Regions from separate parts of the Homo sapiens genome. Here all the other regions are reported to be linked to region 1. The links are microRNA targets in miRTarBase. Many come from high-throughput screens and were not tested one by one. Region 1 holds a microRNA gene; each other region holds the end of a gene's coding sequence.
The links. Region 1 holds the annotated microRNA hsa-miR-1293 (UGGGUGGUCUGGAGAUUUGUGC, at 2,235-2,256, opposite strand). A microRNA usually pairs through its seed, bases 2 to 8, with sites in the 3' UTR of a target mRNA and lowers its output. Matches are read on the target gene's strand: a 7mer-m8 pairs with bases 2 to 8, a 7mer-A1 pairs with bases 2 to 7 and ends in A, and an 8mer does both.

Region 2: miRTarBase lists TPCN2 as a target of hsa-miR-1293. Seed matches in the 3' UTR shown: 7mer-A1 at 889-895.
Region 3: the mRNA of SESTD1 is a reported target of hsa-miR-1293. The part of its 3' UTR that is shown has no 7-base or 8-base seed match.
Region 4: miRTarBase lists TMEM54 as a target of hsa-miR-1293. Seed matches in the 3' UTR shown: 8mer at 804-811.
Region 5: miRTarBase lists DIAPH1 as a target of hsa-miR-1293. Seed matches in the 3' UTR shown: 7mer-m8 at 3,255-3,261.

The regions. Positions count from the first base shown.
Region 1 is chr12:50,231,948-50,236,063 of GRCh38, forward strand. It overlaps MIR1293 (microRNA 1293), which reads right to left and starts at 2,265; the gene lies at 2,195-2,265. The region is part of intron 2 of LIMA1 (LIM domain and actin binding 1); the gene reads right to left. RefSeq lists enhancers at 422-471, 2,909-3,410, 3,411-3,910 and a silencer at 2,568-2,707.
Region 2 is chr11:69,087,152-69,091,267 of GRCh38, reverse strand. TPCN2 (two pore segment channel 2) reads right to left here. Exons shown (of 25, transcript NM_139075.4): 24 at 4,062-4,116; 25 at 671-3,393. The coding sequence ends at 3,315. Among named protein-coding and RNA genes, the nearest start is that of MIR3164, 6.0 kb to the right of the region's middle. RefSeq lists a silencer at 2,376-2,515.
Region 3 is chr2:179,106,431-179,110,546 of GRCh38, reverse strand. SESTD1 (SEC14 and spectrin domain containing 1) reads left to right here. Exons shown (of 18, transcript NM_178123.5): 18 at 519-4,116. The coding sequence ends at 648. Among named protein-coding and RNA genes, the nearest start is that of CCDC141, 58 kb to the right of the region's middle. RefSeq lists silencers at 2,539-2,739, 3,819-4,019.
Region 4 is chr1:32,891,348-32,895,463 of GRCh38, reverse strand. It overlaps TMEM54 (transmembrane protein 54), which reads left to right. Exons shown (of 6, transcript NM_033504.4): 5 at 25-159; 6 at 585-869. The coding sequence ends at 659. HPCA (hippocalcin) reads right to left here. Exons shown (of 4, transcript NM_002143.3): 3 at 1,835-1,940; 4 at 818-1,699. The coding sequence ends at 1,602. Among named protein-coding and RNA genes, the nearest start is that of HPCA, 6.9 kb to the right of the region's middle. RefSeq lists an enhancer at 1-48 and a silencer at 2,292-2,471.
Region 5 is chr5:141,513,483-141,517,598 of GRCh38, forward strand. DIAPH1 (diaphanous related formin 1) reads right to left here. Exons shown (of 28, transcript NM_005219.5): 28 at 1,539-3,526. The coding sequence ends at 3,369. LOC124901091 (a long non-coding RNA gene) reads left to right here and starts at 3,526. Exons shown (of 2, transcript XR_007058971.1): 1 at 3,526-4,116. RefSeq lists enhancers at 52-677, 223-342, 678-1,303, 1,083-1,332, 1,304-1,929 and 2 more.

The DNA of each region.
Region 1 (4,116 bases):
AGTAGAGATGGGGTTTTACCATGTTGGCCAGGCTGGTCTCGAACTCCTGACCTCAAGTGATCCACCTGCCTCGGCCTCCCAAAGTGAGTGCCCAGCTTTTTTTTTTTTTTTTTTTTTTTTGAGATAGGGTCTCACTCTGTTGCTCAGGCTGGAATCCAGTGGTACAACCATGGTTCATCATGGTTCACTGCAGCCTTGACCTCCCGGGCTCAAGCAAACCTCCTGTCTCAGCCTCCTGAGTGGCTGGGACTATGTAAGTGCACACCACCACACCTGGCTTAATTTTTTTATTTTTGTAGAGATGGGGTCTTGCCATGTTGCCTAGGCTGGTCTCAAACTCCTGAGCTAAAGTGATCCTCATGCTTCAGCCTCCTAAAGTATTGAGATTACAGGCATGAGCCACCAGCCCGGCTACTTTCTTTTTTCTTTTTTTTTTTTTTGAGATGGGATTTCCCTCTGTTACCCAGGCTGAAGTTCAGTAGCGTGATCTTGTCACACTGCAACCTCCGCCTCCAGGGCTCAAGTGATCCCACCACCTCATCCTCCTGAGTAGCTGGGACCACAGATGCACACCACCACACCTGGCTAATTTTGTATTTTTCGTAGAGACAGGGTTTCACCATGTTGACCAGGCCAGTCTCAAACTCCTGAGTTTAAGTGATCTGCTGGCCTCAGCCTCCCCAAATGCTGGGATTACAGGCATGAGCCACCAGGCCCAGCCCCCCAGCCACTTTTAATCTTTAAGAAAACCAGTTCTGGGCTGGGTGAAGTGGCTCATGCCTGTAATCCCAGCACTTCAGAGGCCGAGGTGGGTGGATCGCCTGAGGTCAGGAGTTCAAGACCAGCCTGGCCAGCATGGTGAAACCCCACCTCTACTAAAAATACAAAAATCAGCCAGGCATAGTGGCGCACACCTATAATCCCAGCTACTCGGGGGGCTGAGGGACGAGAATCGCCTCAACCCAGGAGGCGGAGGTTGCAGTGAGCTGAGATCACGCCACTGCACTCTAGCCTAGGTGACGGAGCGAGATTCAAAACAAACAAACCCAAAAAAACAGTCTGCATACCTATTTCTGCCAGCAGTTGCTTTTAATCAACTCTATCAGAAGAAGCTGTAAATCAGAGCAGACCTCACTTCCTGCAGCTATTCCAGTCATCTGCTCTGATATAACAACAAGATCCCCGTGGATAAGGTCAAATGCTGAAACAATTGGATAGAGCAGAAAGTCTAGGCTTTAAGCCCCAGTTTTGCTGCTTATTAACTGTGATCTCTGGCAAGTGACTTAATCTCTCTAAGCCTCAGTTTCCTTATCTAGAAAGAAGTTACAATCTACTTTCAGGATTGCCAGGAAGATTAAATGTAATCATGTGTAAAAACATTTTGAAATTAGTTAAGTCCATACAGCAATGCATTAATTCCAACATATACATTTCCCCTCCCATATTTATGCCTGATATCTTACAATTGTTCTCAGCCAAATGGTTGAGAGATAGTCACATTGCCTGTACATGTTGAATTTAGTGTAAGTTATTGATATTGTCATTTTAACTCAGTTAAAAGTATTTGATGGTACTACATGGTTTTGTTTTGTTTGAGACAGAGTTTCGCTCTTGTTGCCCAGGCTGGAGTGCAATGGCACAATCTCGGCTCACTGCAATCTCCGCCTCCCGGGTTCAAGCATTCTCCTACCCCAGCCTCTCAAGTAGCTAAGATTACAGGCATGTGCCACCATGCCCGGCTAATTTTTGTATTTTTTACTAAAGACAGGGTTTCACCATGTTGGCCAGGCTGGTGTTGAACTCTTGACCTCATGTGATCCACCTGCCTCAGCCTTCCAAAGTGCTGGGATTAAAGGCTTGAGCCACAGCACACAGCTATTATTATATGTTTTAAATGCCACTTAAAAATGTCTTTTAAAAGATCATACTATGTTTGGCATTTAAGGAAAAATTATTTTACATATGCACAAGAGTGATATGTGAGAAAAGTTTGTAATAAGCAGTGATTAGTTTAATCAGCATTTTTTCTTAGAGATGCAAAAATAGTGGCACAGCTATAGTTGATGACATCTTAGATTTCATAAATAATTATTTGTTATTACTTTTATCATTTTGTCATTTTTATTACTTGGATTGGAAGACCTCTGAGAAAAAAATTAAAGTTCTTTTCAAGGAGGAACAGGTTTTCTCCATTTAAAGACTAAGTGGTCCGGAGATTTGTGCAGGTACAAGCTGCACAAATCTCCAGACCACCCAGAACAACCTTTTTTTTTTTTTTTGAGACAGAGTCTTGCTCTGTTGCCCAGGCTGGAGTGCAGTGGCACGATCTCAGCTAGCTGCAACCTCCGCTTCCTGGGTTCAAGTGATTCTCATCCCTCGGCCTCCCAAGTAGCTGGGATTACAGGCATGCCCCACCACACCTGGCTAATTTTTGCATTTTTAGTAGAGACAGGGTTTCACCATGTTGGCCAGGCTTGTCTCGAACTCCTGGCCTCAAGAGATACGCCTGCTTTGGTCTCTCAAACTGCTGAGATTACAGGCATGAGCCACCATGCCTGGCCCTAGAACAACCTTAACCTGGCTTCCTCCAGACCTCTGAGTCATGCATTGAAGTCAGCACCACCACGTGGAGAATCACCATTATGTGCCTCTCCTTGGGCCTGCCTTAGCAGAACTCAGCCCCACCCCTAGAAAAGGGCACTGTCCTCTGCCTAAAGGTAGAATTTCAGAATTCATGAGGCATTTGGAGTAGGAGGTAAAAGAAGAAGAAAAAAAGCAGCCTCAGGCCTGGTGCAGTGGCTCACACCTGTAATCCCAGCACTTTGGGAGGCCGAGCTGGGCGGATCGCTTGAACCCAGGAGTTCGAGACCAGACTGCGCAACACAGTAAAACCCTGTCTCTACGAAAAATACAAAAATTAGCCAGGTGTGGTGCACGCCTGCAGTCCCAGCTACCGGGGAGGCTGAGATAGGAGGATTCCTTGAGCCAGGGAGGTTGAGGCTGCAGCGAGCTACGATCATGCCACTGTACTCTAGCCTGAGCTACAGAGTAAGACCCTGTAGCTTGCCTTGACCTCCAGGACTCAAGCAATTCTCCTACCTCAGCCTTGCAAGAAGCTGGGTCTAAAGACGTCTACCATCACACCCGACTAATTTAAAAAAATTTTTTTTAGTATAGGGTCACGCTATGTTGCCCAAGCTGGTCTCAAACTCCTGAGCTCAAGTGATCCTCCTGTCTCAGCCTTTCAAAGTGTTGAAATTACAGGCATGAGCCACCATGCCCAGCCAAGAAAGAGTATTACATAAAGGGTCTTCCAATCCTATCACTTTTTTTTTTTTTTTTTTTTTTTGAGAAGGAGTCCTGCTCAGTCTCCTAGGCTGGAGTATAGTGGTGTAATCTCGGCTCACTGCAACCTCTGTCTCCCGGGTTCAAGTGATTCTCCTGAGTAGCTGGGATTACAGGTGTGCACCGCTATGCCCGGCTAATTTTTGTTTTTTTACTAGAGACGGGTTTCACCAAGTTTGCCACGCTGGTCTCGAACTCCTGACCTCAAGTGATCCACCAGCCTTGGCCTCCCAAAGTGCTGGGATTACAGGTGTAAGCCACCGTGCCCAGCCCCCAATCCTATCACTGTCTAATTTTAATAATCAGATATTAACAAGCATCTCAGTCGCCATGTAGTACTGCTCTGCAATTGAGCAGAACTCTCTAATGGGGTAGGGTAAAAGGGCTACCAAAAATTTCTGGCACTTCGTTGACCATAACTAGGAAGAAAGTGGGATTAGAACTGCTGTGATTCAATTGACAAGCTGAAAATATATTTGCAACTTATATTACAGACAAAAAATTAATTTCCCTAGAATATAAATAACTACTAATAAGCAGGAAAATGACAACTGAATAAATAAAAAGGCAGATATAAACATACTGTTCACGGCTGGGTGCGGTGTCTCATGCCTGTGATCCCAGCACTTCGGGAGATGGAGGTGGGTGGATCACCTGAGGTCAGGAGTTGGAAACCAGCCCCGCCAACCTGGCAAAACCCTGTCTCTACTAAACATACAAAAATTAGCCAGGCATGGTGGTAGGCACCTGAAATTCCAGCTACTAGAGAGA
Region 2 (4,116 bases), not on the chromosome of region 1:
GGCCAAGGTGGGAGGATCACTTGAGCCTAGGAATTCAAGAATAGCCTGGGCAACATAGAGATACTCCATCTCTACAAGAAATAAAACAATTAGCCAGACCTGGTGGCATGTGCCTGTAGTTACAGCTACTCAGGAGGCCAAGGTAGGAGGACTGCTTGAGCCCACAAGTTGGAGGCTGCAGTGAGCCATGATCACACCACTGCACTCCAGCCTGGGTAACAGAGCAAGACCCTAAAATAAATAAATGAATAAGTAATAAAGTAAAAACTTTTTAAATCTCATAGCAAACAACTGTGCTGAATTCTTTTTTTTTTTTTTTTTTTTTTTTGAGACGGAGTCTCGCTCTGTCGCCCAGGCTGGACTGCGGACTGCAGTGGCGCAATCTCGGCTCACTGCAAGCTCCGCTTCCCGGGTTCACGCCATTCTCCTGCCTCAGCCTCCCCAGTAGCTGGGACTACAGGCGCCCGCCACTGCGCCCGGCTAATTTTTTGTATTTTTAGTAGAGACGGGGTTTCACCTTGTTAGCCAGGATGGTCTCGATCTCCTGACCTCATGATCCACCCGCCTCGGCCTCCCAAAGTGCTGGGTGAATTCTTACTATTCTTAATAATTTTGGCTTTTCTATGTAGACATCATATTTGAGAATAAAGCATTACGTTTCTTCTATTGCTGTTTTTATGTACTTACATATTTATTGCATCTTAATGAGGCAGGACCCTCAGCAGCATGTAGATTTTGCTGTTGCTGATTGTAAAGGCCCTGACAGTGACAACTTCCATTTGGAAAGCTGTTTGCTGAAGGTTTTGGCAGCAGGGCGTCCACACAAGAGGGGTACACAGTGTGGGAGTCAAAGCCCCAGTCGGATGAGCAGGGCATCTCTGTGGGGAGTGGGTGGCAGTGATGGGAGGCTGGGGACATGCAGGAAAACTGACCCAATAATAGATTAAGGAGAATGAGAACCATTCCCAGAAAGGGCCTTACAGCTATGGAAAGAGAGAAAAACTGGAACGTACCCTGTGGTGCTGGGCTAAAATCGGAGGTATTAGTATCATTCCCAGCTGTGAATAGATGAGACAGAGAGAGAGATGGAAGTACGTGCACATATCCTCTAGCTCTGTCCACTAAGAGCTCCCGGGTGCAGCAATCTGCAACAGCCAGGAGCACGCCTCGCACCCACATCCTGGTTCCTGATGCTACTCTCCATTCAAAAGAACAGGTCTTCTTAGAGCTGCAGCTCACTCCAATAAATGAAAGAGAAAGGGGCAGGCAAGTATAAAATAAGGCTTGAACATCTTTTTGCACCAGAAAGTAAAGAAACAGCTAAAGAACTGTAGGTACATAACAAAAAAAACACAAAAGGCAGAAGAAGGGGCTCCCACGGGCCAAACAAGCAGGACCTGAGCCTGAGAGTAAATGTCATAACAGACCACAGCCCTGAATACAAGAAGGGACCAGGATCCACACAGGTGGGAGCAAGGAAGGAAGGAAAAAGTAAAGGCAGTTTGACAGGGATGGGATATTGGCATCGCTTCACACTACCTCCCCACTCATTCATTACAAAGGGGTCGTTCACTGGGCAGTGGAGAAGCTGACCAGGGCCACCTTCACCAAGCAACAAGAGAGAACACCAGCAGGAGGCTAACTGCATTGGGCAGCCCCTGCCAGGAGGCAGTGTCCATCCTGTGACACTCCTAGACGAAACGCAGACCCAGAACCTACCACAAGGAAACGTCACATGAACACAACCTGGGAGCCATGGGCTTATCTCCAGAAGTGCCAAGGTCGTCTAAGCCCAGGGAGACGGAGCCACCGTCCAGGCGGATTAAGTCGCCATGACCACAAAGCCACGTGCGACTCACTCCTGACATGAATGCGGGTTGGACGCCGTCCCAAAGCACAGAGGGTGCAGGGCCAGAACGGCAACCACTCAAGTGACTCAGAAGGAAGCTTCTCTTTACTGTGCTTACAACTTTTCTCCAAGTTTGCGGTGGTTTCCATATTGTTATTGTTATTGTTATTGTTATTATTCAACACGAGTAAAAAGAAACTCATGACCTTCTCCTTGGACTCGCTCCTCTCCCCAATCTCGATACCGACTGCACTGTTGTTCGGGTCGCCCCCTCCCCCACCATCCCACAGGGGCTATGGCGTGGGCTCAGCACCTCTGAAGGAAAAGCAGATGAAAGAACTTGTGCCTCCCAGGCGAGAATGCACAGTGCAGGGGCAACCCTGGCAGGGCCCATCCCTTCCTGGTCCCGCTGAGCTCGGGCACAGACCGGGCACCAGGCTCGGTGTGGAGTGTGATGGGGAGTGGTGTCCCCGGAGTTGTTTCTGGGAGTTGCTGGGTCCACCTTACCTTAAATGTAGTCAACCAAGTCCCATCCCACCACTAGATGGCACCCAAACCTCAGCAGAAAGGGGGCGTGGGTTGGCCCCTGAAGTGAGAAAACCATTGGTCAATCTGGACCTGGCGTGCTTCAGGTGACAACAAGGCTTTCCACACACTGCTCGCTCGCCCCACCTCCCCACCCCAGGCCCCCTGCCACACACCTGAAGACACAGGAAATAAGGTCACCCATTGGCTTATACATGCCTTTGAGCAAAACAGAAAAGGTGCCCCTCACTGCAGGTAGACAGCCCCCCGCCAGGATACACCTCACAGCCATGTGCCCTTGTGCAATGCACAACCCAAGCAACCTTACTCAACAACCCTACTCCAGAGAAGCAGGACTAGAACTGTGCTGAAGTGAAGAATGACAATCCCATTCTTTGCAAGACTTATTGATGAAAATAACTGGCAATCAGAACCCTAAAGAAACACACCCAGTCACACTCATACAAGCCATGAAATAATAAAACACAGTCAAGGTTCTCTCCATGTCAAACCACCAGCATCCCCACCTGAATGCCCCGGAAGTCTGACGGTTAACCTGTGCAGGCCCTGGTCAGGCCTGTGGTCCCCAAGGGCTGCCGGCAGCAAAGGCACCACGGAAGCTGCAGGGGACAGGGGAGGCCGCTGCTTCTTGCATTTTTGTCTGAAAGGTCCCTGTGGAGTCGACGAGGGAATTCTCACTGAAGCAGCTATAAAAGAAAGCGGAGGGCACGGCGCCTCCCTGAAGCACCAGCAGCTGTTCTGTAGATGGTTGTTGGGCCACACGCAAAGGACTTGGTTCCTGTCCCCAGCTTAGTGGTCCGTCAGAGGAAAGGTCTCTTCCTGCCTGGCTGGCCACAGCATGGCCGCCTCTTCCATGACGGGCACCTGTGTAGGCCAGCCTCTCTCTCCTGCCGCCCCTGCTGGGACGGCAGCCCGGACGTCACCTGCACAGCCACAGGTGCGGGTGCTGGCTCAGCCTCTCTGTGAGCTCATCCTCCCCGGGCTCCTCCAGAATATCCCTGTGGAATTGAGGAAAGATGCACACAGGGGCCTCTAAAGGAGGGAGACCCTGGCCTGCCCACAAGAACAAGGGAGCAGAGCTTAGCAACACATGCGAAGTGAGTGTCACAGGGACACAGAGACACGGGGACTCAGATGAGCCTCAGGATGGATGTAGCCACTAGAAATATCTACACGGCATTCTTAAAAGCCCAGGGGCCACGTCTTCCCACTGGCTGGCAGGACCGCAGGGCTTGGCTGCAGCAACTCGGCAGCCCCTGGTGGAAGGCACAGAGGCCCCACAGCAGGGCTGCCTCTGGGTGGTCACTTTTCTGGACTAGCAGAGGAACCATCTCAAAGCTGCCAGGAGAAGAGATGGGTGCGTTTTCCTCAGGTCCCTTGTTTACATCCAACAGGATCCAATGGACCCTGAAGGATGGTGCCTTAAATATGCCCAATCCAAGAGCAGGAGAGCAGGACAAAGGCTATGACGCCAGTGGCAGGAAGAAGAAGCCGCCCCGATCCCGGCTCTGAGCTGCTCTCCTAGAGCACAGGACCAAAGCCAGATAACCGGGCGGAGGGGGAGGACAGTCATCAGGGCCTGCCCGCCGCCTCAACCCCTCCACCCCCCAGCTCTTGGCTTCCCATCCCAGGGGGCCAGACAGAAGCGCCTTCCCCACCCACACACCTGAACAGGAGCTCCACAGTCATCTGGTAGGTGGCCTCTGGGGTCCCAGCAAGGG
Region 3 (4,116 bases), not on the chromosome of region 1:
TTCTAAGAAATCTTCCAGCTCTAAAAATATTCTGTGATTCTGAATACAGTATCTTTGAGAGTAGAATAAAATTAATAATTTTATCTGTTAATGTACCAAAAAATGTCATAACATTAAAAAGAATATTTATTTTGCTTGCCAGCTCTATAGACAAGTGGTGTCCCCAGCCGGTAGCACTCAAGTACCTGTATAAATTTTATGTTTGTGCATCCTTCTGGACCCACATATTTCCAGTGTTTCATTGTTCAATTTGTTGCTATTATCATAACTACACATGATATAACCTTTATACCATCAATATATTTTTCTCATCATGTCTTAATGTATTTTATGCCATTTTAAAAAATGTTTTTCCTGCTGAATTTCCTGCTCAAACAGTATGATCACCGATGAACTGATATTTACACATAGGCTATCTCATGTAGATTTTTTATGGTAAATTTTTGCTTCTATTTGTATTCACTGCAGTTAATAGATTTGTATTAATCTGAGGTTTTTCTGTGTGTTTTGATTTTTAGAACCGAACAATATTTTGGGAGTCCAAGTGACATGGCTTCTACTGCAGAAAACATCAGAGACAGGATGAAACTAGTTAATCTCAAAAGGCAGCAGCTGAGACATCCTGAAATGGTGACCACAGAGAGCTAATAGCTACCAGCTACCTACAGATTTGCAGTTCATAATCCCGCATGTTGTCAACATACTACAGCATTAGCCACCACACCTTAAGATGCATTTCACAGCCAAAATAAGTCTCATTTCTTTTCATGACACATTTCTCTTTACATGTTAACACCTTGCTACTACCAAGGCATAATTACTTAACATGCTTCGAGGCTGTAGATTCCAAGTATCTTAAAAGAAGGAACTATAAACATTGCACTGAAAACTTGCTTTAAAGCTTTACCTGACCTGTCAGTTTGTAGACAAACAACTGATAATAAGCTTTGAATGGTGCTAATAAGAGTAGGAATTCTCTCTATTAAAAAGAAAAAAAAAAGTTGCCCTTCCTCCACAGGTGATTTAGTAAATTTAGACAGTAGTTAAACTCTTGTTAGTAGACAGTGGTGTCCTCAAAATTTTACTTTGTAATTCTTCAGAATTGATTATTTTTATTGTGTCAATACAGAGAAAGCCTTTCAGATCTTTGATATATCATAGTCATTAAAAGACCTTTTCCTATTTGTATTGATAATGTATTAAAAGTTGTTTGTGCTTAATAAAAGACTTCTTTAAACATCTTATTTAATTTAGTAGTTACATCCTATTTCCAAACATGAGTGCCTTATTTAAAAGGGCATTCTTAGGACTGTGAGGATGGTTTAATATTTGTTTTTTCATGGTGGTTGCATGTATTTTAGACAGGAAATACATATGTAAGCATGTGTATATAATAAATAAGCATGTTTTATCATGAAAAATTATTGTGAACAATTTAGATCTTTAAGAACTTATTAATAATGGAATACTATTTCTAATTTTTCTCTTTTTCAACTTGAAAAATATTCTCAAAATTATTAACTACCCTGAAGATACTTTGTCTTTAGGGGAGGAGGGCTGAGGAAGAAGGCATACATAATTACTTCAGTGTAATCCTTTATATCAGAGTAATCTTTCAGGAACTAAAATAGCAATTGTTAATAAAATTTAGTTTCTCATTATAGTCTAAAAGCAAAATAAATTCTGAAGTAGTCCAATAACAGAACTGTATGACCCCTTTAGAAATAAAATTTATCATGAAATGCTAGTTCTTTTAAGTTTGTATTAAGTTTAAATGGTAAAATGCATATAATTTAAATTTTATGTATTTTTATTTCAGAACATTTTTTAAAATATTAAAAATTATTTTTTAGTCTTGTAGTCATTACAAAATTATAAACGAGTTGTATACTGGTTCCTTTTTGAGGTCTACAAACATGCTCGTGTATCTTCCAATGCAAAAAAAAAACCCCTCCCTTTTAACCTGCTAGTTTTTCCAGCCTTCTTCACTGACTGACAGACTTCTTGGAGAAATCCACATCCAGTGCCCCTACATCCTCATCACTCACTACTCAGCACCTTGCAGTCTGGTTTTACACAGCACTCTACTGAAACTGTTCTTTTGAAAGTCAGCAATGGCCTCCCAGTTACCAAACTGAATGGTTTTTTTCTCCGTCTGAATCCCTTACCCTTTTCTCTGCAACATTTACACCATTGAGCAACCTTTCCTAGACAGTGTCTCCTTCCTTGAAGATGCTATCCTCTGAAATAACTGTGAGTACAGTCGCATAACCCTAATTTAAGATGTGCCTGCTGAACATGTGCTCTCTCAGATCCTGTCCTCAGAATGCTTTTGGCTCTTTTCTCGGTATCTCATCCTTAGAGTTTTTATTTTATACCAATGTTCTGGATTACATACCTGGTCCAGAAATCTAGACTTGTACTTCTTTTTAATTGCCTAGTTGACATTTCAACCTTGATTAAAGATTGACAATATTTATCACCTTTTCCTCCTGGAACAATTTAGGTTAATGGTGCAGCCTTTTTTCCTAGTCAAACATGCCAGGAAGTTCAGGGCAAAGTTCAACTGCTCCCTCTTGTCTTATGTGGTCACTGCTTCTGAGAACATCCAGGAAGTTCTTTCTATACTTGAATCATCTTCTCAGTCCTTTGGGGCTTTACTGCTATGAGTATGAACTTTTGTGATTATTTATTTCAGTCTTCATGATGGTGCTATCACATTCTACAGTTGTTTATGTCTGTACCCAGTAAGCTCTTTTGAGGGAAGGAATCTTGTCTTCTCCTATTCCCAGTCTTGCTCATGCATAACAGATGCCCATTCCTCCTAAATATGAATGCTGTATTATAGGCATTAGTAATAATCCCTGTTACATTGCAGTCTGAAGTATGTTTTAAACATACTTTTTTAAAGTTAGAACTGACTTACAAGTGAATCTATTCTTAGATTCTTAGATACTAACTACTTTAGATATTTAGTTATACTCAATAACTAAATATCAATACTCAATATCTGTTTCTTCTGAATTTCAGAGTAGTTAGAATGTTTTTCTTAAGACTTTGCTAGAAAGGAACTGGTTTGTTAGTAATTCTGCCATCAACTCATGGAGTTATAATTGCCAAATGAGTTAATTTTTATATACCTTAAGCTATCTTGCCTACAAAAAGTAAAATAAGGCAGGATTCATAAATGTTACTTGTAAATTGAGTGTTTCACATGAGGCCAAGTATGATTTTAACATAATGAATATCATTGCTCCTCATCTGTAAATTTGCTGCTGCTTTCATATGTGTATCTGTACATAGAGTTATGAATGAAAATCCAGTAATGCCCTAAAGCAACTTTCTTCCATAGGGTCAAAGCTCACTTAAGGTAAACGTGTGAAAAAAGTGACTGCAGTGTGTTTGAAACCACAAGCTGTTTCTATGTCATAAATTAACATCAGCTTGCAAGTCTCTGAAAGAACCACTCATTTGTAATTGGTATATATGTCACAACCTCCCACATTCCTTTAGCCCATCTCAGGGAATTATTGAAACGCTGGCAGGGTTAGTTTCATTTTGTTTTGGTTTTTTTGGGTTTTTTTGTTTGTTTGAGGATTTTTTTTTTCTTTTATCATTTGTTTGCTCCTGTGTAAGCTTAATATATAATGGCAGTTTGGCATCTGTTCTTCGCACATGTCTAACCCAGCAGAGTTATGCAAAAATGATGACTTCATTTTAGGTCAAATTGGCTTTGTTCCCAGTCCTCATTGTTGGTCACTTTGTTCAGTTCTGGTGACTCATTGGTGATGTTGATGAAACTGCTCAGCCTGCCAGCTGGGATATTGATGGCAGGTCTAGGCTTCATTGTTAGGTAGAAGATTGAATACTTCTCACTTTATACAAATTTACATTGGCTATTGCTCCCATGTGTTAGCTAGTCTTAACATGTTTGTTATTTCGTTATCTTATTAGCTGACATACGGAGTGGTATTATTAGTGTCGTACTCCTTAGCGTGAGCATGACAATTAAGTTACCTTACTAACAGTGATGAGTAAACCATACTCTGATCTAAACCCATTGTTACCAATGATGTGATTATGAAGTTAGCTGAATCTATGGTCTACATTTGAAGA
Region 4 (4,116 bases), not on the chromosome of region 1:
CCATCTCTGCCCCATGCCCCGCAGAGCTCCAGCCTGTGCCTCTGGGGCATCGCCCTAGTGCTCTGCGTGGCGGAGAACGTGTTTGCTGTACGCTGTGCTCAGCTCACCCACCAGCTGCTGGAGCTGAGGCCCTGGTGGGGGAAAAGCAGCCACCACATGGTAAGTTCCCTCCACAGCCCTGACTCCCCGAATTTCCTGGGAGCCCCTGCCAGGGTGCCCAAGCTGCTCTGCCCCACCCCTATGTATGGGCCCCCACCTTGAGAAATGGGGCAGAAGTTTTCTCCCCAGGAGCAAAGGGAGAGGCCTGGAGGCTGGGAGAGGTGAGATCTCCCAGCAGAGTCACACAGCTGACACCTGGCTCTCCTAGGGCCCAGGATGAGTCTTGAGGGAGGGGCAGGGGTGTCTGGGCTCGCACTGAGGGCATTGCAAAGGTCAGGCCTGGCTCTTGCAGTGGAGTGGGTAGTGATGCCCCTTTGCCCCCAGAGAGCCTTCCAGCCCTCACCTCCTTCCATTTCCCGGATGTCCTGGAGGAGGAGACCCAGGCTGAGAACCAGTGGGTCTGGCAGCCTCCTGTGTCTCTGCAGATGCGGGAGAACCCAGAGCTGGTGGAGGGCCGTGACCTGCTGAGCTGCACCAGCTCTGAGCCTCTGACCCTCTGAGAGATGATGTCCTGCCCAGGCCCGATGGCCACTAGGACCCTGCAAGCAACTCTGCTCTGTGACCAGGCCAGGATTCCTGGAGCTGGCCTGAGAGGGCTCAATGGACCCTCGGGGACCCAAGTGGGGCTTTCAACCCTCTCCCCCACCACCCAGCCCACTGCACTGAAATGAGACTTTATTCTGAAATTATTAAAAAGAACAGAGATGCTCCATTTGGCTGCATGCAGGGGGGGCGGTTGGGGGGACAGAGGGGAGGACAGGGGCTCAGCCAGGGGGACCGTGTCTCTTTCCCACGCAGGACACTGTGCATGGGGCTCTGGGTGCATCTGCCCATCTGTCTATGGGCCTGTGTGTGTGTGAGAGGCCAAACACAGAGAGCTCCGTGGGTCTGTGTGTATCCAAGTGCTAAAAGGCAGGCTGGCTTTCTGGGGCCCACAGCTGGCGGGCTAGTATCCTGGAAGGTTTCACTTGGTGGCTTGGCCTAGGGACCAGCAAGGGCTGGGGTGGGAAGGGTGGCTCAAGGAAGCCTCTTTCTCCAACTCCACACCCCTAGAATCCTTCTCTCCCCTCCAGATAAAAAGTCTCCTCCCCTGGGCATGACTCCCCCCACCCCGCAAGCTGAGACCTGCAAGAAGGGGACTGCCCCTTTGGGGGAGGGGTCGGGCCTTGGGGCTGGTGGGTGGGTAAGGGGGCCTGACTGAGGGGCAGACCAACCCAGCCTGTGTCTCTATTGTTGCCTCTGGGATTGGGGGGTGCTAACCGCTTACTTGCTTTGGCCTGGGGGTACCGCAGGGTTCCCTTTTCCGGAAGCCCCCCACAGGGCAGACCCGGGGAGAAGGGCTTCCCCAATCTGGCCCCCAGCCAGAATACACACAAGGGAGTGGAAGCTAAGAGCCGGGAGGGGGCCGGTGAAGGGAGGGAGGAAGGGGAACCTGGCTCCTCTCAGAACTGGGAGGCGCTGCTGGGGTCGCACTGCAGCAGACGCACGATGGACGGGTCGCTTTTGGCCCCGCGGATGAACTCCTCCAAGGACAGCTTGCCTGCAGGGCGAGGGGAGCGGTGATGGGGGAGGAGGCGGCAGCCTAGCGAGGGGAGGCGGAGCGGGAAAGGGAGGCAGGGAGGGAGGGAGGGAAAGGCGCCCGCCCCGTCCACCCCGTCCCGCCCCTGCCCCTCACCGTCGTTGTTTGTGTCCATTTGGCGGAAGATTTTCTCAGTCCTCTTTTCCGGGGTCGACTCGTCCTCCGGCATCTTCATCACGGACGAAACCATCTTGTAAATGGCCTGGGGGCGGGAGGGGAGGCGGGGAGTGAGAGGAGCCTGCCCGAGCCCCCACCCGCAAGATTCAGAGGCGCCCCCGGGCTCTCTGACGTTTGCTGCCCCCGCCTGGGCAAGGTGGAGTGGGGAATCACGGAGGCGTGGGGAGCCGAGGGCTTCGGGAAGGCGTGTCCGGGAAGGCCTCCCAGAAGAGAGGGCTATCGGGCGGGCCCTGCCGCGCTCCCTTGGAGGGCTGGGTGGGAAAGGAGCAAAGGCGCCGCAGGTGGAAGCTCCGAGCGGGCGCAGGGGTCAGGAGAGATGTTGGAGGACACCGGGGCCCGACAGTGGAGGGCCTGGAGCGGCGGGCTCAGGAGCGCGTGCCCCGGGGCACGCGCGTCGGGGGTAAGTACCGGGCTGGCACCCGGGCCCAGGGCGGCCCGCGCTCGGTGGTCGAAAGGGGGCGCCGGGCCAAGGGGGCGGCACTGCGCTGCGGGGCCGTCTGCTGCCGGCAGGGGGCGCGGCGCGGGCTGGAGGGCCAGAGGCAGCTGGGCCCAGAGGGGCGGGGAACAGTATGCAAATGAATGCAAATGAGCATCTGCAGCGGGCAGGGACCGCCAGGCTTGGCTAGGCTGGGCTGGGCAGAGGGCGGCAGCCGCCACGTGCAGTAGCTCCCGAGGCGACGTGAAAGAGAGTTCTTGCGCTAAATGTACAGAGCACGTAGGGCTTGGCCTGTAGCCTGGGTCGCAGTGCCTTGGAGCTCAAGGACCGAACCTGTCTCCTCAATCTTCCAGCTTTACCCGACCGACACTTCCTCCAAGAAGCCTCCCTTCTCCCATCCCATAAACTTCTGCTGCCTCAGATCCAGCTTCAGCCTCCACACTGGTCTCTTCCAGCCTCTGTCCCTCGGGTCTGTCCCCCATGCTGCCTCTGAAAGCTCTTTCCGAACACAGATCTCCACTGTTACGTCCCCAGCCTGCACACCACCCCCTCACTCCCGTCACACACAGGCCTCCTCTTAGGCCCGCCTTGCACCCAGCTCCTGCTGCTGCTTCCCACTTCTCCTTGGGGCTCAGTTTACAAGCTGTTTTCTTAGCGAGGTCTTCTCCAACCCAGGCTGGGTCAGGGTGCATATGGGCCCAGAGCCTGGCGGACTTTTCCTTTGCAGACATCTCTCCAGAAGTAATTATGTCTTTGCAGGGTTGTTCCTGCAAACATGGACGTCTAGCTAATGCCCATATCCCCAGAACCTGGGACCAGGCAGGGACTTCCCTATTTAAAAGCCATTGGCACTTCCCACTGCCCTCTGTACCAAGTTCAAACCATTCAGCCCTTGGGATTTAAGACGCTTTACAATCTGTCCACTGCTGACCCTCCTCCATCAGGTCTCCCCTGGCTGGGTGATTCTGCCAACAGCCAAACACCCCTGGCCCTTCAGATTCTCCAGCATTTACAGTCTTTGCCTGGAATAACGATACTAAGTACCACTTATCAGGGGCCCGCTCTGTGCCAAGTACTTCACATGCACTATTTCTAAACCTCACGCAAGCCCTGAAAAACAGGTATCATGATCCCCATTTTCCAGATAAGAAACTGAGGCTCAGAAGGAAATTGATGGCAGAGACTCGATTTGTACCTGTTCCCTCTTAGCTGCTGGAGGGATGCTTGGGCAGTGTGGGGTGGTGATAATCAGCAGGGCCTTTAGCATTAGACCCGGTCTGTAGTAACTGCTCAATGAATGGTAGCCACAGTTGTGACTGGATATCACTACCTGTCTGACCAGCACATGAATAGAGGGGTCTGGTAGTCTCAAGTTTCTAAAGTTAGATGGACCTGGAGTGGTGTCCTGGTTGAACTACTCACTAACTGTGTAGCCTTGGACATATATGTATCTGTGAGCCTCAGTTTCCTCAGATTAAATGAGATTATGTGTGAGGAACCGTGGCTGGCTAGAGTGGGTGGTCAGTAAACAGCAGCTCATATTATAGTCATTATTCATCCTCCACATCCTCAAGTCTTCCCTGCCACTCAGTAGTCCCCTGGTTCCCAGATGACACCTTTACACCCCTGTCACTGAGCTTGTCAGTGTGACCTACACATCTGTCTCCCCCACCAGAGTGGGAGCCCCAAGAGGCGCAGTCTCTTCCTCTCCAGTGTGTCCATTACCTGGCAGAGGGCTGGGTCTTGAGAAGAACTGGGCCAGTGA
Region 5 (4,116 bases), not on the chromosome of region 1:
CACCCCCGCTGCCTAGGGGTTTTGGGAAAGCCGCGGGAGTGGGAGGGAATGCGGGAGGTGATTCTTCCAAAGCCAAGTCTGCAGCTCGAGCCTCAGTTTCCCCATCTGGAATTCGCCTTCCCGCTGACATCTCCGTAGCGAAGCCTAAGAAATTGGAGGGCTCATCCTCTTCTTGCGGGGGTCAAGGGGACTGAAAGGACGTGCAGGAAATGAGATCCATCGCAGACTCAGCTCCCCTCCCTCCTTCCTGTCGGTGCTTTTCCACTCACTCGCCTGCTCTCCCATCTCCCCGCCCCCTCCGCCTGCCTCCTCGAAGCACTGTGGGATTCCGAGGTTGCTGCAGCCAGAGAAGCTGCAGAAAAACACGGAGCTGGGGGTGAAGGGGGACTTAAAAGGGGAACTACCCGGAAGGACCCAAGAACACAAAGACAGAGCCACTGCGGTTATCTGGCTGGTCAGCAAGGGTATGCGGCTTCCTCCGCGCTGCGGAGGCTCCCAGAGCCAGGTCACCCATTCTGCCAGCTCAAGTCTGTTGTCATGGGAACCAAACCTTCCAACTTAAGAATCTGGGGGCGACTTTCTAGCGTGGGAGGAAGGGTGGTGTGCACGGTTGCTGAGATGGAAGCAGGGTTTTGTTACTCAGAGCCAGGCTGCGGAGGGGCGGGGTGCCGGGCGCCTGGGTTCTATTCCAGGCACAGCAGCAGACTGGCAGAGCGCGTGAGCAGCTGTGGTTTGTCCCCTAATTGGTATGTGTGCCTATAAAGCTCTGAACCAGAAAGGCGTGGCCTCCGGGGGGACGGGAGGGAGGCGGCAGGCAACCCATCCCCACACCTCAGGCCATACTGAGGAGGCAGCTGCCCAGGCTCCAGGGCTATTTAAAAGGCTTTTATTTCCAGTTCCAGAGCCCGCCCGAATGGGTTTGTGGTCCTCTCCAGGCCTCTCCCTGTCTATCCTGGGCCTGCTCATTGCTGGTCTGGCTTTTTTGTGCAGGTCATAACGTGCTCAGACAAGTATGGCTCCAAGTGGCAAGTCATCTGGAGCATGACCTCAGGCTCCCAACCTCTGCTGGGCAGGCTCAGGTTTCCACCCCAGGGTAAACCCCTCTACTCTGGAATGTGGTCTGTGGCCACCAACAGAGCAGAGGGGATGAGAAAATGGGAGCCAGATGCTTCCCTCAGCAAGAGACACAGGTACTGCCAGGAAACCTTGCGTGACATCTGGGAACATGAAAGGTTCCAAGTGAGTTCCAAAAAAGGGCTCCAAACCAAGTAGCAGCAATGTGGAAGAGTCAGGGAGCTGAACCAGGCGCCCACTCCTTTACTGTGGCCAAACGGCCCTGAGGTGAGCTCTGGTGGGGCAGCAGCCACCATGTATTAATCATCTCTAGCCCTGTGCCCAAGTAAAGTGTCTGGCACCTTTAGCTTTTTCACAGTGATTTGTCAGGTCAACCAGGGATTTGAGGCAGGAAAGACTAGAGGAGCCTGGACTAGAGTGAAAAGAAAACAGCTCAGAAATTCACACAGGAAGCTGTAAGGCAGTACTGTTTCAATGCTTTATTAACAGTTGGAAACAAAACCAACAAACTGGAGGTGATGACATCCCAGAAGCCTATGAGGCAAGGGAAATAGGTTTGCATTTTGTCCCTCACACCTCTCTCTCTCTCTCTTTTTTTTTATTAAATGCATCTTAGCAAAAGTAGATTAAAAAAGAAAGGGTCAAAGCCCCAGATGTCAGCGAGCAGGGAGGAGGTGACCCAGGGGAGCAACAGACGCCCTGCATCAGAGTCCTCCCAGGAATAGTCCAAAGGAGCTGCTCTTGCCCCTTTATACACAAGCGCCAGCAACCAAAACCCTCCCTCCTGGCAATAAGGCCTCACTATAGTTGCCCTCATGCTTCCTAAGCTCTCTCTTGCTCTAATAACTCTAATTCTGGGCCAAGCCCAAGAGTGCCATTCTTTCTTCCTAGCTGGGGATGGAAAGCTGAGAGGGGCACAAGGAGGGCAAAAGTATCACCCTAAGCCAGAGAATTGCAGCTTCCTGTGGTTGGGGCCACCAAACAGTTCAGTGTGCCCACCCACTTCTCTTTTAGAAGAGAGCTGGGGTACAGTGTATGAAGGCACTCCTGGTGCCCAGTTCCCCAGAATGTCCAGTTAGCATCTGCACATTTGGCTTGATACATTTATACATTTATAAAAAACTCTGTGGTCTTAGAGTTCCTGCTACTCTTAGGCCTGGCCCAGCTCAACCAGAGAAGGGGTTCCTCCTGTGTCGGATTCCCTGGGAGAGAGGATCTGCCTTGGACTCAAGGGTCCAGAAGGTCCAGGGGCACATTCAGGATTGGGCCTGTGAGAAGAAATCCCAGAACTCTGTAACCTGCCACCAAAGCTTCTTACATTATGGAGGGGAAAGGGGGAAGGAACAGTTTTCTTTAAAAAAATTTTTTTTTTCATACAAAAATAGATCCATTTGCAAAACAATTTCTCAGCCAGGAGGCTCCACCTCCCATTTCCTTGTAGACAGAGGGTGAGGTGTTGGGATGGTCACAGTACAACCCATAGTCCAGATGAGATGCACCAAAGCTCAGGGAAGGCATGAGGAGGGAAGGTGGCTCAGTAGCCTGGGGTTGGTGCAGAGCGTCCAGAGAGGCAAGGGCATAAAGCGTGGCAGAAGCTGGGGGCAGGTCCCACACTGTCGCTATGCCCTGCCTGCCTGCCCACAGGCTCTGGCCTGGGCCACAGCACAGCAGGGAAACTGGTCCAGATCCTTTGCTTTGGAGGCCTTTCCCAGGAAGGTGGGGTAAAGGTGGGATTTGCTCCCTGCTTCCTTAGGAGCAGCTCCCAGTGCCACACCACTAATAATAAATAACCACAGCCAGGAGAGGGAAGAGCAGAGACAACAGCAATGAAAGGAGGGATCTAGCCCAAAGGTTTACAAGCCCCATGCTATTCTCAGGGCCAGAGAAACCACAAAAGAAAAGCACAAATCCAGCAAGACTGACCTAGGGGGGAAAGCCCATTAGAAAGTCAGGGCTGAGAAAAAGCAGGCTGGGCCTTGTCTGAGATGAGGCCCTCTGAGTAACAGAGAGGAGACAGGGTTAAGGCAGCAAACATGGACCCTGCTTTGGTAATACAACAGCCAGGGCTGGCTAAGTCGGGCTCAGGCCTCCCCTGCACTGCCCTTTCCTTCTGGCCTCCAGGCAGCTGAAGCTGTATGTGATGTTGAGAGAGCAGCAGGCCAGAGAGAAAGACAGGGTCAGGGTGGTGGGAGTGGCCACCCCAGAGGAATATCCCCTTGAGCCTTTAGGCACATGCTGCAGGGCAGGACAGTCTGCGGCTCCGCTGAGGAGCTGCCGCGGTCACAGGACCCACATTAGCTTGCACGGCCAACCAACTCCTTGGCTTCCTCAAGGATTGTGGGGAATGTCTCACTGTTCTTGGACACCTTGGCAGGAACAGCAGCCATGGCATCATCCTTGGTCAGCTCCGAAGCTAGCAGAGATGTGACTGCACACCCGGCCTTCCTGTTGGCTGCAAGAGAAGACGAGAGATTCTGTCTATGGAAGGCCTCATTTCTAATTTCTTTCAAACTCTACAGCAGATAATCAGCGTAAGCCATGCAGACATGACTACCTTGGCCACTTCACAGAGGCCCTTACTTTGAAGAAAGGGGCAGAGATCCAGCATGTGGAATATATTGTTGGGTGGCAAAGAATGTAAGAGAGTGTGGTGCAACAGGAAAGCAAGCCTTGCCCCCTTGCTTCCCTGTGTGAAAACAGCACAAAAGTTTGAACACAGACAGACAGAACTGGGCTGAAGTGTTAGCTATGTGACTTAAGGAGAGATGAAGTATTCAAAGTCTATTTTCTCGTAATAGGGATGTTGGAATTAAATAGACTAAAGTTTAGTACATAGTATTATTTTTGTTTTCTTGACAGGTCCCAGGAAACTCCTAGGCCAAAACACTTCTCAGTCAGCCCTGGGAGGGTTGTCCCTAGCAGAAGGCAACCTTCCGTAAGTGGCTGGAGAGACTCCCGCAAAGAGGAACAGCAGCCACGCACTGACACCGCACTCCCACGTGTTCCTCCAACAACAGATGCCCACATGCCTTAGCTCTTTCC